Homo sapiens: one gene and its partner. The protein of the gene in region 2 purifies or fractionates together with the protein of the main gene of each other region. This does not show direct contact. Each region holds a gene or a part of one and is shown on either strand. Other genes may lie near its edges.

Region 1 (3,500 bases), on a different chromosome or scaffold from region 2:
GATAATACCGAAGTCTCTCTATATTTTTTCCTAGATATATATACCTATGATATAGTTTAATTTATAAATTAGGCACAGTAAGAGATTAACAATGACTAATAATAAATTAGAACACTTGTAACAATATACTGTAATAAAAGTTATATGAATGTGGTCTCTCAAAATACTGTAATATTTTTGACAATGGTTGACTGTGGTAACTGAAACCACAGAAAGCAAACTTGCAGATTAGTGGGGGACTACTGTACTTTTTTATCATAAGCTTCTCTGACATTCCTTTTTAGACTTAAGTGTGCCTTCTGTCACCAAATTCTGAGTCTGTGTTCCAATCAATCAAATTAGATTTAGTTCCTCACATCCAGGACATCACTTCTCCAGACTATTTTAATAACGAATTACTGATGAGGCATTGGGAAAAGAACACAGAAGACTTTGATGACTGCAAGGTCATAAGTTCCTCAGTGACTACTGAGTTCTACTAATTTCAAGTTACAATACTAGGCAAATCTTGATAAGTTAGAAGTCAGGAAGCTCCAGAATTAACACATTCTACTTGGCTTTCAGGGGCAAAGACAAAACAAAAAGAATGTATTGAAACTGAACTCCTTAAGAAGTAATCTTTTATATATGCATGTATCAAAACATCATGTTGTATACCATGAATATACATAATTTGTCAACTAAAAAATTTTTAAAAAATTGTTTATTTTCCCCTTGCTTTCTGCTCCTCTGCTTCACTCCTCTGCTGTTCTCCTTTCCTCCCTCCCTCCCCTCATTTTCTCCTTTCCTCCCAGACTTCCCTTCTTTTTTTTTTTTTTTTTTTTTTGAGATGGAGTCTCACTCTGTTGCCCAGGCTGGAGTGCAGTGGTGCAATTTCAACTCACTGCAACCTCCGCCTCTCGGGTTCAAGCAATTCTCCTGCCTCAGCCTTCTGAGTAGCTGGGATTACAGGCATGAGCCATGACGCCCGGCTAATTTTTGTACTTTTAACAGAGACAGGGTTTCGCCATGTTGGCCAGGCTGGTCTCAAACTCCTGACCTCAGGTGATCCACCCACCTTGGCCTCCCAAAGTGCTGGGATTACAGGCGTGAGTCACTGCACCCGGCCGCCTTGTTTTAAAAATACGATTTTCTCGAACTCCTGACCTCAAGTGATCTGCCTGCCTCGGCCTCCCAAAATGCTGGGATTACAGGCATAAGCTACCGTGCCCAGCCTAGAAATACAATTTTCTTTTGCTGTTTACTAAAAATCTGCATACAAGAAGAACGAAGAGCATATCCACCAGCCGAAGCATGTGACTCCTTGGCCTCATTGTTTTAAGGATTTCCTTTTATACATGAATACAAACCAGGATTCCTTGGTTCTGCTTCTAACCTGAAGTGGGCCTGGTTTTCATGAGTACAGAGTGACCTAGCAGAAACAATGCTATGTTTTCCAGGTCGGAAGAGATCACTTACTTTTTCTTGGAAGCACAAGAGTTTAACATAAACAAGCTAGGATATCAAAGGTACACTTCAATCTCAATAATAAAAGTTTATATAGAGGAAGGTCAGTAGGATAATTCAGCTAATAGCAGTTATTTTCCATTTCAGGCATAAAGTAATTTCTATCTAATTCTAGCTCAAACATAAAGGAAAAAAGTGTGTGTATGTACATATAGAGTGGTAAAAAGACTTACCCCTTGTGCGTGAAGATATTCAACGGTTTTAGTTATAGTGAACAGGACAGCACTGGCCTCTCGTTCAGAGAAAAATTTTTGTCTAAGAATTTTATCCAGCAATTCACCTCCTTTCATAAGTTCTGTTACTACATACACATACTTTCCATCATCATATACCTATAAATTTCAACATCAAAATGTAAATATTATTTGAAACTATATGTGCCCAAAACGAAGTTTAAAATATAAAGGAAAAATTAAACTCACTTCATATTCAAGACAAATTTTATTTATTTATTTATTTTGAGACAGACTCTGTCGCCCAGGAGTGCACTGGCACAATCTTGGCTCACTGCAATATCCACTTCCTGGGCTCCAGCGATCCTCCCACTTCAGCCTCTCAAGTAGCTGGGACTATAGGCGCATGCCACCACACCTGGCTAATTTTTGCATTTTTTGTAGAGACGAGCTTTTGCTGTGTCTCCATGAGCAGGGATAATCTGAGGAAATTTGAGTTTTGACAACCCCCAGATAAGGCCTTTGGGCCTATTGAGCATCATTAGCAAGAGAAGACTTAACACTACCTGGGGAGTTCACACTGTTTGCCAACACTTTGTTATAATAAAAGTCAAGAGAGACATAGGCAACAGGGTTATCATGACAGTCCAGGGAAAGATACTTTACTTGTCCTGGGGGTGGCAATGGGCAGGGCAGGCTTCCTGGAAGAAGCAGTGCCTTAGCAAAATCTTATATGTGTGGTAGTTAGCCAGGTAAAGAAAATAGATGGTGTTGGCAACTGAGGGAACTATAAATTCAGACATAACAGCATGGAAAATGAGGCATGCGCAAGAAATTTACATACTAGAACACAGAGCATCAGGTGTATGAGAAAGGGTGTGTGAGAAGTCTGAAAACTACAGAGGAAGGCAGGGTCTTAAGCGGCTGGGGACTTTAGACTGTAGGCAGGGAAGTTAAATGGGTAGTTATGAGTGTTAGATCTCTTTTCTAGTAATGTGGAAGATACTTTGGGGTAGTCTGGAGAGTGAGACTAGTCAATATTGAATATGAACTAATAGTAATATTAACACTGAACATTTAGGTAAGTGTTCAAGTAAGTGCAGATATTAAAAGCAATAATATCGTAAGTACTTTTCTTCTTAAAGCAAAAGTAGAAAAAAATAACTGTACAAACATATCTTTATTGATAAATGAAATTATGCCATATACACATATAAATTGTTTTCAAATCTACTTTTTAAACTTACCATGTTGAATTTTGTTTTGTTTTGTTTTTGTTTTTGAGACAGGGTCTTGCTCTGCTGCGCTGGCTGGAGTGCAGTGGTGCGATAACTGCTCACTGAGGTCTTGACCTGCCGGGCTGAAGCAATCCTCCCACCTCAGCCTCCAGAGTAGCTGCGACTATAGGCATGAGCCACCATGTCAGGCTAATTTTTAAATATTCTTTAGAGACAGGGTCTCCCTATGTTGCCCAGGCTGGTCTTGAACTCCTGGGCTCAAGCAATCCTCCTGCCTCAGCCTCCCAAAGTACTGGGATTACAGGTGTGAGCCACTGTGCTCGGCCTGGCTAATTAAAAAAAAATTTTTTTTTGTAGAGATGGAGATCTCACTGTGTTGACCTGGCTGGTCTTGAACTCCTGGCCTCAAGTGATCCTCCTGCCTTGGCCTCCCAAACTGCTGGGATTACAGGCGTGGGCCACTGTGCCCAGCCTATGATGAGTTCTTTGTCTACCACATGATTTTTGAAAATACACTACTTTCAATGTGAGTTAGACAACTGATTCAAATGATCCATATTAAAGAATCTACTTACATCCTTTA
Region 2 (3,057 bases):
GAGATGCAGTCTCACTCCGTTGTGTAGGCTGGAGTGCAGTGGTGGGATCTCAGGTCACTGCAACCTCCGCCTCCTGGGTTCAAGCATTTCTCATCCCTCAGCCTCCTGGGTAGATGGGATTACAGGCGTTCGCCACTATACCTGGCTAATTTTCGTATTTTTAGTAGAGACGGGGTTTCATTATGTTGGCCAGGCTCGTTTCATATTCTACTCCATTTTTCCCAGTTATATTTCAAAATATTTCAGATACATGTAAATTAATAGGAAAAGAAGTTTAACTTTAGGAAGATAGTAATTTAATTAATGTCATTTTAGCTTTCAGTAATTAACATCTAAAAACCATAAAAAATACTTTTAAAAAAATTGAAATTAAACTGCATTTTTCATTTCCTTGACTCCAATTTGAATGGAAAGTGTGTGTAGAAGTATAGCCATCACATCTGCCCTACCATCCTTCTCCTGTCCCACCCTATCCTACAAAAGATCAGAGAAAGCACAAAAAAAGTTATAAAACAAAATTTATTATGCAATACTTTCTCATAATGAATTGCATCTCTTTGGTAAAAATAAACTTTATAAACATTTTAATAATCAGAGATTAGATACAAAAACTAAGTATTTGTAAGTTGTTTTTAATATGAGCAAAGATTGGCAACTGAGAAGTGGTTCACTTGTGACTGGTCATCTACTGGCAGTTATAACTCAAACCGGGACAATTTTTATGCTACATCAGAAAAGAGGATAAGGAAACAGTTTGATAACAAATTTGTTGAATCAGAAAGCATTCTTACACTTTCATTTAAAAATAAATAATAGTTACAATCAATTGGCAATTATACATTTTTATACACTATATGATGGCAACATAATACTTTAAAATTAAGCACTTAGTTTAATAAGAAATGTACAACGATTTAAAAAATAAGTTTTGACAATGGCACTGGCAGTTAGATGCAAAGAATATGCTTTAAGAAAAAAAATGGCAGGTATAACATTAAAATACTCGAATTCACCTTTCAATAAATATTTTTACTACATCATTAACATACTGAAGTAAACTTGGTTTAAATCAAAGCTTACACATTTCAAACTAAAAAAAAAAAAAAATACAAAAAAACACCTGTAAGATATATGTAAACCAGAAAGCCTCACAGTTTCTTAGATAAATGCTGTGATCTTCACAAAAGGGTGTTAAGTTGTTGTAGTATTTAAGACAATGGTCTTTACAGCTTTGTGAAGTATTCACATCTGTTGCTTAAATTGCTGGCAAAGGCCTCCTGGTCTACCAAGACATATACATTCCCTCCTTAACACATTCTCTAGTTTGACTTTGTGCTAAAGTATATTTAACTGAACATCTAGTATGAGCCCTTTACATAATGCCTCAGAAAGTAGCAAAAAGAAAAAAATATATATATACTAAACTTTACTATATACAAAGGAATCCAAGTTAAAAGAAGTCATGCTGGCTATGAGGACAGGAAAGGCTTGAAGGTGGAAAAAGGGAGGTGATCCACCTTTTCCATGAATTCAGGTAATCTGTTTTCTTTCTCTGAATTTGGAAAAGTAAAATAATAACTGATTTAGTAATATATTGCACAAAAAAACTTCAAAAATATATATTCAAGAAACAGTGATTCTGTTTGGGATGTGAAGATGAACAATTGTGTTGAATCAAAGCTTTTTACTAGGGATCTATTATAAACTGGAATCAGCTGCAACAAAACATATTCTTTTGACGTAAGGCAAATTATATGTTAGCTTATATCACAGTTTTTAGGATATGTTGGAAAACATGTAACCTCCTTGGAGTTTCTAAGTTGACTTTATTACAGGAAAATTTGTATATTATAGGGAATACAATTTCCAGGCCATAGGACTTGGAATGACTCTACTTAATTGTGTGGTTATTAGTCATGTTTCTCAAAACACCTGAGGAATGAGAGCATACTCTCAGTGGAAGTAGTAAATGGAGGACCATAATTTAAAAGGTTCTTCCCTTGAAAATAACTGACTTGGTATGTTAGCAAGTGGAAGGTGATGCATTAAATTATGTTTAAGAAACTGTAAAATATTGTGTAACCTCTCCCTGTTAGCTTTCAGTGCACAAGTGTTTATCATCCTTGCTAGTGATGAATATAACTTAAACATTTAAATTCGTGGGAAGAGTGAATAAAAAGGAAGAGAAAAATCAAAAGATGTAAAGAATTACTGTTACATACATCAAGACAAAATAACTTTGAAGATCCCTATTAGAGCTGGAACTAACTCTGCTTCTCTTTCCTTTCCTTATAAAGAGTAATTATCTAATGGACAAAAACCAGGTAGCACATTTGTGATACAGAATTTCAGCAGAACAAAATAAACTGGTGCCAGATCACTGAAACACTGTTCCTAAGGTCTATACAGAGGCTATGGTAAATAACTTAAAAATAGTTATTAAGATGATGTGTATAATCTATTATTTATACTGTGGTTAAAGCATTTTTGGGTTTTTGGTGTTTTATTCACTGTCTATAATAAAAGTTAACTTGGTTTAGCCATTTTCTGTAGATGTGATCGATCTAAAAAAAAAACCCAAATACCTCATCCTGCATGCTTAAGGGTTTTCATTATTAACAAATTTAAAAATTACTATATTTTGACAGCACCAATTCATTAATGTGGCTATCCAGGTTAAATTAAATTTAACATGGAAACAGAACAGAGAACATTAATACTGTTATCCCTGACTTAAAGTCTTGTCAATTGAAAAAAAAGTTTTTAAAATCATTTTTCTCATTTGACAGTTTTGCCAAAATAAAAATTAAAAGTTAAAATTTGTCTCTTAAAAAATGCTTTATAATCACAGAAACAGCTGAAAGCAAATCAACATCATGACCTTGACTGTGCATATGTGTATATGTATGTGTACATATGTATACAATCTATCAGAATAATGAAAACAAGGTCATTGTCTATGACTTAGGATGTAGCATAAGACTGAACTTTCAGAAAGTTGCTTCCACCATTGTAAAAAAAAGATACAATGAATTAGTTTAGCATCCTATTGTTTCT

The links. Proteins that work in one complex are often made in the same cells at the same time.
Region 1: the proteins of FOXN2 (region 2) and RPS6KA3 purify together in Homo sapiens (affinity purification with western blotting; one study listed by BioGRID). This does not show direct contact.

Annotation. Positions count from the first base shown.
Region 1 is NC_000023.11:20,165,910-20,169,409, forward strand, and holds part of RPS6KA3 (ribosomal protein S6 kinase alpha-3), read right to left. Parts: coding exon 3,493-3,500; intron 1,839-3,492; coding exon 1,680-1,838; intron 1-1,679. UniProt on the Homo sapiens protein: Serine/threonine-protein kinase that acts downstream of ERK (MAPK1/ERK2 and MAPK3/ERK1) signaling and mediates mitogenic and stress-induced activation of the transcription factors CREB1, ETV1/ER81 and NR4A1/NUR77, regulates translation through RPS6 and EIF4B phosphorylation, and mediates cellular proliferation, survival, and differentiation by modulating mTOR signaling and repressing pro-apoptotic function of BAD and DAPK1.
Region 2 is NC_000002.12:48,376,739-48,379,795, reverse strand, and holds the end of FOXN2 (forkhead box protein N2), read right to left. Parts: 3' UTR 501-3,057; downstream 1-500. UniProt on the Homo sapiens protein: Binds to the purine-rich region in HTLV-I LTR.